Regions from separate parts of the Homo sapiens genome. Here region 1 is linked to region 2. Evidence: fine-mapped expression QTL. A gene starts in region 2. The other region holds a variant in brackets. All regions are shown on one strand. Distances are between the middles of the regions. Region 1 overlaps COLGALT1 (collagen beta(1-O)galactosyltransferase 1). Region 2 holds the start of COLGALT1 (collagen beta(1-O)galactosyltransferase 1).

Region 1 (8,325 bases), 27 kb before region 2:
CCTCTACTGAAACCTGAAGTGCACATCCAGGTTAATCCAGGAATCCCACCTGTCTCAATTTACCCAACTGAAATTTTAAAATCCAGTAGGAAGCCAGGTGCAGTGGCTCACGCCTGCAATCCCAGCACTTTGGGAGCCAAGGCGGGTGGATCACTTGTAGTCAGGAGTTCAAGACCAGCCTGGCCAACATGGTGAAACCCCATCTCTACTAAAAATACAAAAATTCTCCAGGTGTGGTGCGGGCGCCTGTAATCTATTACTCAGGAGGCTGAGGCAGGAGAATTGCTTGAACCCAGGAGGCGGAGGTTGCAGTGAGTCAAGATCGTATCACTGCTCTCCAGCCTGGGTGACAGAGTGTGACTCCGTCTCAAAAAGCAAAACAAAACAAACAAAAAAACACAAAAAAACAAAAAATCCAGTAGGAAAGATGTATTGTATAATGCTATCCACTGCAGGAAACAGCAGGGAATATTTTCCATAACAATCCAAAAAGAGCTCGTAGATGTTAACCCTATTTTGGAAAGGAGGTCCACAATAGTTGTTAAATTTAAAAATAAAAGTTGTTTTTTAAAAAATAGGTACAGTTTGATCCCATGCTTAGAAAATAAAAGTGCATTCCACGAAAAATAAAACGGCAAGTTGCAGTAGCTTAGGTAACATGGTCCTCCTTTTTTAAAAAATGCATATATATTTACACCATGCAAATAAGGAAGGCTGGAAAGTTTTTGAAAATGTTAGTTGTGTCTGAAAAGGTGTGATTTAATTTTTGCTTTGTCAATTTGCTTAGCTGTAAGTTCTGATTTTTTCCACACTGATTGAACACCATCAGTGTTAGGGTTTTTTGTTGTTGTTTGTTTTTTGTTTTTTGAGACAAGAGTGTTGCTCTGTCGCCCAGGCTGGAGTGCAGTGGCGTGATCTCGGCTCACTACAACCTCCGCCTCCCAGGTTCAAGTGATTCTTCTGCCTCAGCCTCCAAGTAGCTGGGACTACAGGCGCTCACCACCATGCCCAGCTAATTTTTCTGTATTTTTAGTAGAGACGGGGTTTCACCATATTGGCCAGGCTGGTCTCGAACTCCTGACCTCATGATCCACCAGCCTCGGCCTCCCAAAGTGCTGGGATTACAGGTGTGAGCCACCGCGCCTGGCCCCTGTGTTAGTTTATAAAAGTCTCGGGTATATTCTTGCACACCCTAAAGGTGTAATAATCCAGAGGATTTGTAAGCATTTGACCCAGAAAATCCAAATGCAACTGGGCATGTTGTAATGTCCAGCCCCCTCTCCCTGGGGTGGGACCACTCTTTCCCTTCTTGTCTCACTTCCCTACTGCTCCACAGCAAGTTCCTGGGGTCACTGATAACGTAAGTGCCCTTCAATCCTCATCTTGGAGTCTGTTTCAGGGGACCCAAACCATGACAGCCCCTCCTCATTTGAAGTCATCTGCGACGATCCTGTGGTTGATCCAAGATAGAATGAAGTTGGCCACCTGTCCCTGGGCTATTTCAGGGAAGTTTTCTGGTTTTGTTTTATAGAAACAGGGTCTTGCTCTGTTGCCCAGGCTGGAGTGCAGTGGTGTGATCATGGTTCACTGCAGCCTCAACCTCCTAGACTCAAGAGATACTCCTGCTTCAGCCTCCTGAGTAGCCAGATTACAGGTGTGCCCTACCATGCCCAACTAATTTCTCAATTTTTTTTGTAGAGACGAGGGTCTCACTCTGTTGCCCAAGCTGGTCTTGAGCTCCTGACCTCAAGCAATCCTCTCACCTCCTCAACCTCCCAAAGCATTGGGATTATAGGAGTGAGCCACCTCACCCAGCCTAATCCTTTTTTTTTTTTGAGATGGAGTCTCATTCTGTTGCCCAGGCTGGAGTGCAGTGGCAAGATTTCAGCTCACTGCAACCTCCACCTCCTGCGTTCAAGCGATTCTCCTGCCTCAGCCTCCCAAGTAGCTGGGACTACTGTCACACACCACCATGCCTGGCTGCTTTTTGCATTTTTAGTAGAGACGGGATTTCATCTTATTGATCAGGCTGGTCTCGAACTCCTGACCTCAGGTGATCCACCCACCTTGGCCTCCCAAAGTGCTGGGATTACAGGCGTGAACCACCATGCCCAGCCCTAATCCTCATGTTGAGGTCTGTTTTAGGGGGACTCAAAGCACGACAGCCCCTCTTTATTCGAAGTCATGTGGAAGGATCCTGAAGTTGACTCAAGACAGAGCTGTCGGTCCCCCGCCTGTTTGGGGGAAGTTTTATGGCATGAGGGGACACAGGGCTCTTACCACACCCTCACCCCACAGTAGCTCCACTGGCCAGCTTTTTTTTTTTTTTTTTGGTTTGATTGTGTCTTGCTCTGCCGCCCAGGCTGGAGGGCAGTGGCTCAATCTTGGGTCACTGCAACCTCCACCTCCCAGGTTCAAGCGATTCTCCTGCCTCAGCCTCCCAAGTAGCGAGGATTACAGGTACCCCCCCCCCGCCACCCCGCCCCACTACACTAGGCTAATTTTTGTACTTTTAATAGAGAGGGGGTTTCACCATGTTGGCCAGGCTGGTCTTGAATTCCTGACCTCAAGTGATCCGCCCACCTTAGCCTCCCAAAGCACCGGGATTACAGGCATGAGCCACCATGCCAGGCCCCACTGGGCAGCTTCCCTACTGCACCTGCCCTGGTTTCCTCCCAAATCTTGTCGGCCATCCAGGGGTGGGGAACGTGGGCAGTGTTTTGGTGCCGAGCAAAATCCCACAAACTGCTGTGAAAACCAACCAGGAACATTTATTAAAAAACTAAGCAAGTTATCCCCAAGAGGGTGAAGCACCGCTGGCTGGTTCTGACATTCGATTCAGGCTGAAGGCACGGCAACTCCTCCAGCCCTTGCTGGGAAATGTCCTACCCAGGCCACGGGCAGTGCCCCAGTGCAGCTGGGTCCCCTAAAAGCCCCCAAACACATGATCCCACCAAAGGCTTGAACAGAGCAACTTCATCAAGCAGGCAGGGACCACACCTGAGACACAAGGGCAAGGAGGTAAAGCACAGGGGACCGGGAGTGGGCCAGGGACACCCAGCCCCCGTCTCCAACTGGCGCCCCCTCCAGGGGGGCTAACATGTGGCGTGGGGCCACCAGGACCTGTGCTTGCCCCTGGTGGCGGAAGAGCTACCCTCCCTCTTGGGTGGTGGGGGGATGTTGTCTGCACACAGCTCAGACGACCGAGGGTACAGGAAGAATCAAACTCAGTCAACCATTCTTCAACCCAACTGGGAGTCTGTGAGG[C/T]CTGGCACACAGGTGCTCAATAAACACTTGTGGCATGAAGAAGTGAAGGAACCGATCTTGTTCATCTCTGTGCCCCAGCACTCGGCATGTAGCCCATGATCGAAAATGCAGACTGAACAACTGTCACACTCTTTTGTATCACTAGTGCCCGGCACACAGTCAGTGCTCTTCAGGTGTGTGGGAAAGAAGCCAATGAGTGAGAAGTTCCCACACCGTCTAGCAGTGAGGAAAAAAAGAAAAAAGTAAAAAGTACCTTGTTTACTCCCATTCCCATCCCATAGCTCAGCTCCCTGCACACAGCAGGTGCTCAGTAAGTGTACCGAATCAGGAACTTATCTTTGTGACATGAGTGCCAGGCACACAGTAGGTGACCAATATGTGCTTGAATAAATGGATAGAAGCATCTTATTTATCTCAATATTCCCAGAGCCTGGGCTGGGCACAGTGGCTCATGCCTGTAACCCTAGCACTTTGGGTGGCCAAGGCGGGCAGATCACTTGAGGTCAGGAGTTCGAGACCAGCCTGGCCAACATGGTGAAACCCCGTCTCTACTAAAAATACAAAAACTAGCCAGATGTGATGGCACGCACCTATAGTCCCAGCTACTTGGGAGGCCGAGAAACAAGAATTGCTGGACGCTGGGAGGCGCAGGCTGCAGTGAGCCGTCACACCACTGCACTCCAGCCTGGGTGACAGAGACAGACTCTACTCTTAAAAAAAAAAAAAAAAAAATCCCAGAGCCTGGAATGGCACCCAACACACAGTAGGCACTCAATAAATCCTTGAATGAATTTTAAAAATGAATGTGTATCACTAGTGCCTGATTCTTAATCTGATCAGTAACTGCTTGATGACTGAATCAATCGCTGATGGAGGGAACAATTATGCCTCATTCACTGCCGTAACATGGGAACCTTGCATACAGCAGGTGCTTAATAAATGCTGGGCACATGAACAGATGAAGAGGGCTTGGTTCCTCCCAATTCCCCAGGGCCAAGCCCTGTTGCTGGCATGCAGTAGGCACTCCATTAATGCTGCCTGTGTGCACGTGATTGCTTAGCAAGAGCTGGCTGGACACCACCCCACACGAGAGCCCTCTGTGGCCTGCCAAGGGGTCCAGAGGTGGACCTGATGTCCTCAGTAAGCACGTGGAGCCTGGGCCACCGATGGCTGCTTTGGCTTTCTGGCTGCTACCCCTCAGAGTTCATCCCGGGCAGCACTGTCCAGTGGGGACTGGAGCACGTCCGAGTTCTTGGCCTCACGGCTCAGTGCCTGCTGCTCCCGCATCTTCTGGGACTTGGCGCGGTCCCAGTCGGTCTTGACGTGCTCATTGTTCCATACGACTGAGGTCTCGGTGTCACTCACATAGCCATCGTCTCCTGTGTAGTGTGTGGGGTAGATGAGCAGCGGCTCCACAGAGAAGGCATGCAGGTTGCGGAGGGAGAAGTGGGCCTTGTACTCGGACCTGGGGGGAGGAGGAGGGGAGTGAGGGGCAGCAATGGCTTCAGGGGACGGGACAGCTGGAGGAAAAATTGGGGGTGAAGAAGTCAGCGGGGACAGATTAAAACGTAAGTGTGCAGGGGATACAAATGGAGACAGATCTGCGAGGGGGCAAACGGAGGGAGAAGTAGGCAAAAGAAGAGACATCTTCTCGGAGGCCGTGAGTCTCACATCCCCATTCTCCCAGGACAGACCCACCGTGAAACCCCAGCCCAGCAGCCGCCTGCCCCTCTCACACTGGGTGTTTGTCGAACATGACGGGCAGGAACTCGTCCACAGGCAGCATCTTGGAGAGCGGCTCAGCAGCCAGCAGTTTGCGGGCGCCTTGCAGGGAGATCACGTAGGCCAGGGTCCAGTAGGAATAGTCGGCCTCCACCAGGTTCCTCACGCGAGGCACAGCCTTCTCGGGGTGCTCCACCTGCATCCGCTTCCGGCCCACATAGCTGGGGTGCAAGATCGGGCCTGTCACTCTCCTCCCGCCCTCCGGAGGGAGCTTGCCCAGAAAGCCAGGGATCTAGTTACCCCGTCAGGTCCTGGGATGGGAGCAGGCTCAGCATGTTTGCAGAGCTCTGTGACTGGATGGAGTGAATGCAGGAGCCCAGGGGTCTGGCGGTCATGGGGGAGAAGAGTGAGTTTTTCCAAAGGGCGTGAGGGAGCCATGGAGGATCTGGAGCTGGGGAGAGCAGGATCACGCAGACGTTCTCTGAGGCTGAAGCTGCTCTGAGTTCAGAGGACAGTGGGGGTGGAGGTGGGCGAGGTGCCCTGATGGGGGGGCAGTCAGGAATGGAGGGGTGCAGTTACTATTCACATGGGGCAGTGTTCCCAGAATGCAGATTAGGGCACTGCACATGGAAGGGAAAAAAGAGATGGAGGAAGGGAGAGGACAAACCAGCCCACTTACAGAAGAGAAGGACGGCTCCAGTGCTGGAAACATGTTGGTGGCACTCCCATCCAGGGGCTTGTCTAAGACCAGGCGCCCTGGCCACGCCCCCACACTCTTCGGCCACACCTCCAGCTCTGACCACACCCCCATGCTCTTCAGCCACGCCCACAGGCTGCCCGGTCAAATTTTAGCCACATCCACCTCCACAGGCCTCAGTCAAGTCTCTAAGCCTTGACCAAGCCTGCAGGCTTCCGGCCAGGTCCCTTGAGTTCTGGGTGATCCTTCCAACGCCCTTCCCTATAGGCTACAGCCCTGACAGTGCCTTCAGGCCCAGGAACCACGTGAGCCCTCCTGCTACGCTTCCAAGGGTTGGCCACGCCTGCCACCCTGACCACACCCAGACATACAGGCTCTAGGCTCAGCTGCAGCGCTGTGGCCACGCCCGTAGGATTCAGCTCCACTCCGCCTCCCAGCCCCACCTCTAAGCCCTGGCCATGTACCTAGGCTCCAGTTCCACCCCACCTTCAAGCCCCGCCTCTAAGCCATGACCCATCCCCAGGTCCCAGCTCCACCCTGCCCCCACCCCCACCTCTAAGTCCTGGCCTTGCCCCAGGCCCCAGCTTCACCCCATCCTCAGACCCCCACTCACATGAGGTCCCAGTCCAGGCCCTCCCGCTCCACATCCCGCATGAGGTTCATCAGACGTCTCTTGAAGAAGATCTCAAAACGCAGGTCATCCTCAAACACAAGCGATTTCTGCAGCCCCCGGTCCACCACCTGAGGGAGGAAGCCCCGCCACATCACAGGGAGGCCAAGGCCAGGCCTGACCCTAAAGCACAGAGCTTTGCTTTGAGAAGGTTTGAAAGACCCGTAGAGAAGCCAGTGCATCTCCCTGCCTCTCCTAGCTCCAGGGACATCTGGACATCCAAACCTCTGCCCTCTGCCGTCCATAATGGATCTCAGAAGAGAAAGGCCTCCCAGCCCCTCAAATGCCCACGCCTCATGCACCTCCCGCCTTGCAGCCGCACACCCCCATTTGGCTTCACATTCGATAACAAGTTTTTCTTTTCTTTTTCTTTTTTTTTTTTTTTGAGACGGAGTCTCGCCCTGTCGCCCAGGCTGGAGTGCAGTGGAACGATCTCAACTGCAACCTCCGCCTCCCAGGTTCAAGTAATTCTGCCTCAGCCTCCTGAGCAGCTGGGATTACAGGCATGTGCCACTACGCCCGGATTTTATTTTTCTTTTTTTGAGATGGAGTGTCACTCTTGTCGCCCAGGCTGGAGTGCAATGGCATGATTTCAGCCCACTGCAACCTCTGCCTCCTGGGTTCAAGTGATTCTCCTGCCTCAGTCTCCCAAGTAGAGGGATTACAGGTGCCCACCACCACACCCAGATAATTTTTGTATTTTTAGTAGAGTCTAGGTTTCACCATGTTGGCCAGGCTGGTCTTGAACTCCTGACCTAAGGTGATCCGCCTGCCTCGGCCTCCCAAAGTGCTGAGATTACAGGCATGAGCCACCACGCCCAGCCATTTTTCTTTTTTCTGAGACACGGTTTTGCTCTGCTGTCCAGTCTGCAGTGCAGTGGCACGATCTTGGCTGACTGCAGCCTTAACTCCTGGGCTCAAGCCACTCTCCCACTTTAGCCTCCCAAATAGTTGGGACCACAGGTGTGCGCCACCATGCCCGGCCCTGATGGCCCAAGTTCGAAGCCTAGTCAGACACCCTCCTCCAATCACAGCCTCTCCCTCTGAGGGTGGATGAGGATGCCTGGGCTGGTGAGTGCCCCCAGCAGCACTGGGCAGGTGCTGGTTTAAAGTGGCTCTGTGGCCATGACTTCTAGTACTAAACATCAAGCACAGAGACCAGGCTGGGAGTAATGAGGATTTGTTTACAGGTCCCAGGCCCCAGACACCACCTGCTGCTCAAAAGGGCTCACCCCTACCCCCAGGCTCAGTTTCCACATTTGCGCAATGGAAGGATGGCAGGTACACCTGGGGGTGATACAGCTGGTGTGGCGCATCATTCACTAAAGAGAGGCCATGGGTCCCATGGCTGAGGCTGGATGCCTAGCCGGGGCTTTGGGGAACTCTTTCAACCCCTTTCCCGTCCAAATCTCCGATGAGATCTAGAGTCATAACTCTGGCCCCGCCCATCACTCAGGACACACCTCCTTCCAGATGTTGTAGTGGCTCAGGAAGCAGCCCAGCTCACCCTTGGTGAGGGGCCGGCCGTGGTAGGGGTCCCGGTAGCCAGGCAGCATCTGGATCCCCAGCGCCTCCACCTGGCTGGTGTTCATGGCTCTGGAGAGGAGGAGGAGAGGGTCACGAAGAAGGTTCACCCTGCCTGCCATTCTGCCATCCCCGGCCATTCCACCACCCCCTGCGGCGTTGAGCAGCTGGTCCACCTCTTGTAGCACTGGCACCCCTTCCGGGCACATGGGGCCTCACTCACCTGCACATGGTATACACTCGCGGGCAAACCTGCTCTCCTCCTCTCCTGGGGTCTGACTGACTTACCCCTCCACAGTCCCCACCAGTCTACACTGGCAGCATGCAAACCTACCCATTCCCCTGGGTCAGGACTCACTTGCCTTCCATGGTCTACAACTGTGAGGATCTGCCCCTTCCCCAGGGTCCCATTCACTTCCCCTTCAGGACGCCCACTGACGAGGTC
Region 2 (8,325 bases):
AACTCTTCACGGCCACCAGCCACTCCCGCAGCACAGTTGACGTGTTATCCATGTTGTGGTCCGTAGCCACCCTGCAGGGAGAGGGGACAGGCAGCGTACTTGGGGAGACTGAGGCAGGACCAGGCAGCAGTGAGGCAAGTCAAGGACCACCATCCCCAACTGGCCTCCCACCAGCTATGTATCCCTGGACAGGACACTTCTCCCTTTCCTTTGTTTTTTTTTGAGACAGAGTCTCGCTCTGTTGCCCAGGCTGGAGTGCAGTGGCGCGATCTCGGCTCACTGCAAGCTCCGCCTCCCGGGTTCACGCCTTCTCCTGTCTCAGCCTCCCAAGTAGCTGGGACTACAGGCGCCCGCCACCACACCCGGCTAATTTTTTTGTATTTTTAGTAGAGACGGGGTTTCACCATGTTGGCCAGGCTGGTCTCGATCTCCTGACCTCGTGATCCGCCCACCTTGGCCTCCCAAAGTGCTGGACTTAACAAGCGTGAGCCACCGCGCCCGGCCCATTTCTCCCTTTCCATGTCAGTTTCCTCATCTGTAACATGGGGGTGGGAACAGGACCCAGTTTACTGGGAAGTGGAAGGATTAAACAAGCTGATTTTGGAAAGACCCATTAGTGATTGGCTGTTTTATTACTGAGCATCTAAGATCTTGCAAACCACATTCACTAACAAATATGTGTCACTTAATTTTTTTTTTCTTTTGAGACAGAGTCTTGCTCTGTCACCCAGGCTAGAGTGCAGTGGCACAATCTTGGTTCACTGCAATCTCCGCCTACCAGGTCCAAGCAATTCTCCTGCCTCAGCCTCCCGAGTAGCTGGGATTACAGGTGCCCACCACCATGCCCAGCTAATTTTTGCATTTTTAGTAGAGATGGGGTTTCGCCATGTTGGCCAGGCTGCTCTCGAACTCCTGACCTCAGGTGATCCACCTGCCTCAGCCTCCCAAAGTGCTGGGATGACAGGAATGAGCCACCGCACACGGCAATTTTTGTAATGTATAGATCAGGCCAGGCACGGTGGCTCACGCCTGTCATCCCAGCACTTTGAGAGGCCGAGGCGGGTGTATCACCTGAGGTCAGGAGTTTGAGACCAGCCTGGCCAACATGGCGAAACCCCATCTCTACTAAAAATACAAAAATTAGGCCGGGCATGGTGGCTCACGCTTGTAATTCCAGCACTTTGGGAGGCCGAGGCGGGTGAATCACTTGAGGCCAGGAGTTTGAGCCTAGCCTGGCCAACATGGTGAAATCCCATCTCTACTAAAAACACAAAAAATTAGCTGGGTGTGGTGGCGGGCACCTGTAATCCCAGCTACTCAGGAGGCCGAGGCAGGAGAATCGCTTGAACCTGGGAGGAGGAGGTTGCAGTGAGCCGAGATCGTGCCACTGCACTCCAGCCTCAGCAACGAGAGCGAGACTCAGTCTCAAAAAATAAATAAATAAAAAATATTAAAAAATGAAATGTATATATCAGAAACCAGCTGGGTGCAATGGCTCACGCCTGTAATCCCAATATGTTGGGAGGCCGAGGTGGGCAGGTCACTTGAGCTCGGGAGTTCGAGACCAGCCTGGCCAATAGGGCAAAACCCCATCTCTAGAAAAAATACAAAAATTAGCTGGGCGCAGTGGCATACGCCTGTAGTCCCAGTTACTCAAGAAGCTGAGGCAGGAGAATCACTTGAGCCCAGGAGGGGGAAGTTGCAGTGAGCTAGGATTGCACCACTGCACTCCCGCCTGGGCGACAGATGTAAAACCCTGTATCAAAAAAAAAAGTATATCTCAGCAGGGCGCTGTGGCTCATGCCTGTAATCCCAGCACTTAGGGAGGCCGAGGCAGGCAGATCATGAGGTCAGGAGATCAACACAAGCCTGGCCACAATGGTGAAACCCTGACTCTATTAAAAATACAAAAATTAGCCAGGCATGGTGGTGCGCACCTGTAATCCCAAGCTACTCGGGAGGCTGAGGCAGGAGAATCACTTGAACCCGGAGGCGGAGGTTGCAATGAGCTGAGATCGTGTCACTGTACTCCAGCCTGGGCGACAGAGCAAGATTCCGTCTGAGAGAAAAAAAAAAGTATATCTCAAAGTATATCTCATAAATCCCTTACCCTGCCTTCATCTTCTCCTGTGAGCCACACCACTTCAGTGGGCTGCAGTCAATTATTCATTCAACAAACATTTGTTAAGTACCAATTGTGTATTTGGATTATCCAGACTGAGAAATCAGGTGGAAGGAAAAGCGACATTTGGGAGTTTAGTTTGACCGTAGTGCCAAAAGCTAATTCTGCCCAATAAATTAAGTTGACAATAACACCAGCAATGACAGTAATCATGATAATAAAATCACTGAGAGCCAAGCCCATGCCAGACCCAAGGGCTCCACATCCATTAACTGGATAATCTTCAGAGACAAACCCAAAAAGAGAATTATATTAATACGCTCATTTTCTTTTCTTTTTCTTTTTTTAGAGGCAGGTCTTACTCTGTAGCCCAGGCTGGAGTGCAGTGGTGCAATCATAGGTCACTGCAGCCTCGAACTCCTGGGCTCAAGCGATTCTCCTGCGTCAGCCTCCTGAATAGCTGGGACTACAGGCACACACCACCGCACCTGGCTAATTTTTGTATTTTTTTTCTAGAGACGGGGTTTTGCCATGTTGGCAAGGCTGGTGTCGAACTCCTGAGCTCAAGTGACCCGCTTACCTTGGCCTCCCAAATTGCTAGGATTACTGCGTGAGCCACTGCACCCGGACCCATTTTCCATTTGAGAAAACTGAGGCAGGGAGTGAGAAGTCACCAGTCAAAGGTTTCTTCAGAGCTCTGCCCCATTCCCTACCAAGAAAGCATCCACTTCCTCCTGGGCCATCTGGTCCTGGACTCCACCCACGCCGGTCTGAGGGCAGGGGTTTGACTGGGGCCTGGAGCCAGGCTGAGTTCAAGCTTAAGGGCAGCAGCCGGCACAGAAAGGCTTGCTGTTAGATGTGGCCTCTGGCAACGCCCCAGTGGGGGCTCTGGGCTCCGTCCTTTGGAGGTGTACGTGCCCCAGAGGGAGTTAGAGCCCCAGTTAGTGAGGCCGGAGCTGCCCTAGTAGGGTCCAGCAGGCAGAAGCGGTGCCCAGCCCACCCCAAAGGAGCCAGCAGGAGGAACTCGGTCCCGCTTGTGTTGTGGGGAGGGCTGTGTCTGGCCCCATGGGAGGACAGCAGGCAGGGGGCACGCGTGGACCCGTCCCGATGGGGGCAGCGGGCAGGGGCATGCGTAGAACCGTCCCGATGGGGGTAGCGAGCAGGAAGCACGCGCGGACCCGCCCAGAAGAGGACAGCGGGCAGGGGCTCGCGTGGACCCACCCCTATGGGGACAGCAAGCAGGGGCTCGCGTGACCCGCCTGATGGGGACAGCGGGCTCGACTCACCATAGCGCCGTGCGCTCCCGCGGGTGCCGCAGCCGCTCGAGTGCGCCCAGCGTGGTGGGCAACGCGTGGGCCGCGTTTCGCGCCAACAGCGCGATGAGCACGCGCGGCGCCTGCAGGGGCGACTCCGGGCTCCAGCGCTCCTCGGGGAAGTAGGCGTCGGCGCCCGGCGGGGCCCCCGGCGGCAGTGGCGCCAGCAGCAGAAGCAGCAGCGCCAGGAGCGGCTGCCCGCGCCGCCGGCCCGCGCGTGGGGCCGCCGCCATCGCGCCACGCGTCTCCTTTAAGTCGTTTTTCTGCGGGAGGACTCTGGCCGCGCCTTAAAGGGGTCATAGGGGCCCCGCCCGGCCGCGCGCCTTAAAGGGGAGGAGCGCGCCGGGCGTGAAGTCCAGGCCCCGCCTCCAGACGCTCTCCGAGTCCCAAGGCCCGGAGTGACGTCACCTGCAGCCCTACCCAGGACGCCCCGCCCCCGCACCGATCTTAAAGGCACATAGCGCTCGGAGCGCGTGGAAGGGATGTTAGGGGTAGCGTTAGGGTTAGGAACCCGCGCTTCCTCCAGGCGCCTCCTACCACTGAGACCTCCGCCAGATGCGCCGCCCAATTTCCCCATGTATAAAACCCGGGCTGTGCCACCAGGCGGACTTGGCTACTTAGGACCTGGTTTGGGACCCAAGAGACCTTAGCCTCAGTTTCCTCTGCTGCAACGTGGGTTTTGCCATCCTGGTTTTGGATCTCACAGGGATGTCATTGAGGGTTGTGGAGAATAAAGGTCATGACGTCCACAGACCTGGCGTCACATTCAGTCCCCGCCTTGGGCTTGCTATATGTGAGCCTCAGTCTGTCCATCTATAAAATGAGATCATAGAGACCCTATAGGGTTGGCGTGAAAATAGAGCCAGGGCATGATAATGGACCGTTCTGGGCACAAGCTCTTCCAGAGACAAGGGCCATGTTTTCATGGAAACGCTGTCAAGGGATTGTTTTCCAATACTCTAGAGCCGCATTTTCAAATTGATTGACTTAGTATCACACTTTTTTTTTTTTTTTTTTGAGACGGAGTCTGGCTTTGTTGCCCGGGCTGGAGTGCAGTGGTGCAACATAGCAAGACCGTGCCTCTATTTTTAAAAACAATAAAAACTTTAAAAAATACATCTGAACATTATTATTATTATTATTATTATTTTCTTTTTTTTTTTTTTTGAGACAGCGTCTCACTCCATTGCCCCGGCTAGAGTACAGTGGCGCGATCTCGGCTCACTGCAACCTCCGCCTCCCGGGTTCAAGCGATTCTCCTGCTTCAGCCTCCTGAGTAGCTGGGACTACAGGCACGCGCCACCACGCCCGGCTAATTTTTGTTTATAGTAGAGATGGGGTTTCACCATATTGGCCAGGCTGGTCTCGAACTCCTGACCTCCTGATCCGCCCACCTCAGCCTCCCAAAGTGCTGGGATTACAGGCGTGAGCCACCGCGCCCAGCTTATTATTATTTTCACAGAGAGGGTCTTACTCTGTGGCTCAGGCTAGAGTGCAGTGGCATGATCACATGATCATGGCTCACTGCAGCCTCAACCTCCTGGGCTCAACTGATCCTCCTGCCTCAGCCTCCCAAGTAGCTGGGACTACAAGTGCACTCAACCACGCCCAGCTAATTTTTAAATTTTTTGTAGAGATGGAGTCTCGCTATGTTGCCCCGGCTGTTCTCAAACTCCTGGTCTCAAGTAATCCTCCCCCTTCAGCCTCCCAAACTGCTGGGATTACCAGTGAGCCATCATGCCCCGCTAAAACTTAATTTTTAAGAATGATACAGGCCAGGTGCAGTGGCTCACGCCTGTAATCCCAGCATTTTGGGAGGCTGAGGCAGGCGGATCACTTGAGGTCAGGAGTTCGAGACCAGCTTGGTCAATATGGTGAAGCCCCCATCTCTTCTAAAAACACAAAAAATTAGCCGGTCATGGTGGCGCTTCGCCTGTAATCCCAGCTACTACGGAGGCCGAGGCAGGAGAATCACTTGAACCCAGGAGGTGGAGGTTGCAGTGAGCCAAAATCGCACCACTGCATTCCAGCCTGGGTGACAGAGTGAGACACCGTCTCAAAAAAAAAAAAAAAAAGGTAAAAACAAATTTACACTCTGTGGACTTGATGAGGAAAGGTCTTTTCATATTAAGTAAGAAAAAGGAGGTGACAAGATACATCCCATCCCATCTGGAAGGATTTAGACCCAAGGGCAAACAATGTTTTTCTCAAAAGGGGCAGGATGACAAATTCTTGTAGCTGCAATTGTTCCAGAATTAACATCTACATCCCGTCCGGGGTAAAAGGAAGACAGCTAAAGAAGCCTATGAAGTGCAAATGTATTGAGCAAATGTATTTCGGAAGGTGGGGTTGGAGGGAAATAGGTGGAAAGGTCAGGAATATCTCATTGTCTTGGGGTAGGCCGAAAACTCCAGACAGAATGGGAGGAAACGGTCTCCAGGGAGTGTGAAAGTCCCTCTGCAAGCTGAACCAAGAACACACGGGAATCCCTGTGGAACCCACTCCGGAAGCAGCTGCAAGACAGCAGAGAAGCTGCCAATATCCAGTTAGCAGATGACTTTGCTGGCAAGCAGAGGAAGTCGGTAAAAGCTTGTCTCCCAGCCAGGAAACTTGACACCAAGTTAAGATTTGGAGCTAGGAAACAAACCCAAAAGGCTCACAGCAAGCGGAGAAAAAAACCCCAAAATCTGTAACCTGTATCACAAAGCGTTCATATCCTTCAGATATAAAGAGTTATTAGATATCAATAAGAAAAATGCAAACACTCCTGAAAAGTAGAAAAAAGCTATGAACAGGCAATTCACTGAAATTAAAAAAAAAAAAACTACAAACATGTAAATGGCTAATCAACATATTTGGATTTTGTTTTTTGAGACAGGGTCTCACTCCCATCACCCAGGCTGGAGTGCAGTGGTGCAATCACCACTCACTGCAGCCTTGAGTTCCCAGGCTCAGGTAAATCTCCCATCTCAGCCCAGCTTCTTTTAAATTTTATTTATTTATTTATTTATTTATTTATTTATTTATTTATTTTATTTTTTAGTAGAGACAGGTTTCACCACATTGCCCAAGCTGGCCTCAAAACTCCTTGGCTCAAGCAATCCACCTGTCTCAGCCTCCCAAAGTGCTGGGATGACAGGCGTGAGCCACCACTCCCGGCCGCTAATTTTGTATTTTTTGTAGAGATGAGGTCTCACTATGTTCGCCAGGCTGGTCTTGAACTCCTGAGCTCAAGTGATCTGCCCGCCTCAGCCTCCCAAAGTGCTGGGATTACAGGTGTGCACTGCCACGCCTGGCCATAATAAACTTATTTGTAAGTTCAATTTAGTCAAAGAAATTCAAAATAAAATCATGAGATTTCTGTGTGTGTCTAACTGGCATAGCTTTTTTCTTTTCATGAAAAGTCCTAGTGTTTAGAAAGGATTTGGAGGCTGGACATAGTGGATCACTCCTATAATCCTAGCACTTTGGGAGGCCAAGGCAGGAGGATTGCTTGAGTCCAGGAGTTTGAGATCAGCCTGGGCAGCATAGCGAGACCTTGTCTCTATTATTTAAAAAAAAAAAATTAGGCCACGTGTGGTGGCTCACACCTGTAATCCCAGCACTTTGGGAGGCTGAGGGGGGCAGATCACTTAAGGACAGGAGTTCGAGACCAGCCTGGCCAACATGGTGAAACCCCATCTCTACTAAAAACACAAAAATTAACCAGGCATGGTGGCGGGTGCCTGAAATCTCAGCTACTCGGGAGGCTGAGGCAGGAGAATCGCTTGAACCCGGGAGGCGGAGGTTGCAGTGAGCCGAGATCCTGCCACTGCACTCCAGCCCGGGTGACAGAGCAAGACTCAGTCTCAAAAAAAAAAAAAAAATTAAAATAAAGAAAGCCTTGGGGAAAATACACAAATAAATGCTGCTGCTTGGAGTATAAAATGGTACAGTTTTCTGAAGTTGCAGGGGTTACAAAAGCCTAAAGATGGCACATCCGTTTTGGCCCAGAAATTCCACTTGTAGACATTTATCCAATAGAAACAAGATAGATGTGGGTGAAGATTCAGCTCCGGAATGTTCCTGGAGAAGGCGGTGGGCAGAGTGGCTGGATCTGGGCACCAGAGTCTGGCTGCCTGGGACAAGCCCCTCCTTCCCGCTCAGCCTCAGTTTCCTCATCTGTATAATGGAAAATATACGGACGTCAAAAATCAGATGTGTCAGATGCCTGGCATGTAATAAGTGCTTAAAAAATCAGAGTTAATAGAGATGTTGGCTGGGCGCAATGGCTCATGCCTGTAATCCCAGCACTCTGGGAGACCAAGGATCAGGAGTTCAAGACCAGCTTGGCCAACATGGTGAAACCTCATCTTTACTAAAAATACAAAAATTAGCTGGGCATGGTGGTGGGCGCCTGTAATCCCAGCTACTCGGGAGGCTGAGGCATGAGAATCGCTTGAACCCGAGAGGCAGAGGTTGCAGTTAGCCGAGATCGCGCCATTGCACTCCAGCCCGGGTGACAAGAGCGAAACTCCATCTCAAAAAATAAAAATAAAAAAAAAGAAATGTAGGCCGGGTGCAGTGGCTCACGCTTGTAATCCCAGCACTTTGGGAGGCCGAGGCAGGTGGATCACCTGAGGTCAGGAGTTCAAAATCAGCCTGGCCGACATGGTGAAACCCCATGTCTACTAAAAATACAAAAGTAGCCGGGCGTGGTGGTGGACGCCTGTAATCCCAGCTACTGGGGAGGCTGAGGCAGGAGAATTGCTTGAACCCGCAAGGTGGAGGTTACAGTGAGCCAAGATGCTGCCACTGCACTCCAGCCTGGTGACAGAGCGACACTCCATCTCAAAAAATAAATAAATAAATAAATAAAAAGAAAAAGAAATGTATAAGCAGCCAAAAGAT

Evidence for each region. PIP is the estimated chance that this variant, and not a neighbour inherited with it, causes the effect.
Region 1: its variant is fine-mapped to the expression of COLGALT1 in lung (TOPMed, PIP 0.95).

Annotation. Positions count from the first base shown.
Region 1 is chr19:17,577,584-17,585,908 of GRCh38, reverse strand. It overlaps COLGALT1 (collagen beta(1-O)galactosyltransferase 1), which reads right to left. Exons shown (of 12, transcript NM_024656.4): 9 at 7,820-7,952; 10 at 6,300-6,427; 11 at 5,004-5,210; 12 at 2,752-4,732. The coding sequence ends at 4,465. Among named protein-coding and RNA genes, the nearest start is that of COLGALT1, 26 kb to the right of the region's middle. RefSeq lists enhancers at 5,675-5,969, 5,804-6,013. The variant C/T (reference allele first, on the strand shown) is at 3,268.
Region 2 is chr19:17,551,057-17,559,381 of GRCh38, reverse strand. COLGALT1 (collagen beta(1-O)galactosyltransferase 1) reads right to left here and starts at 3,733. Exons shown (of 12, transcript NM_024656.4): 1 at 3,409-3,733; 2 at 1-71. The coding sequence starts at 3,668. It overlaps NIBAN3 (niban apoptosis regulator 3), which reads right to left. Exons shown (of 15, transcript NM_001321827.2): 15 at 5,742-7,596. The coding sequence ends at 7,484. RefSeq lists a silencer at 3,566-3,655.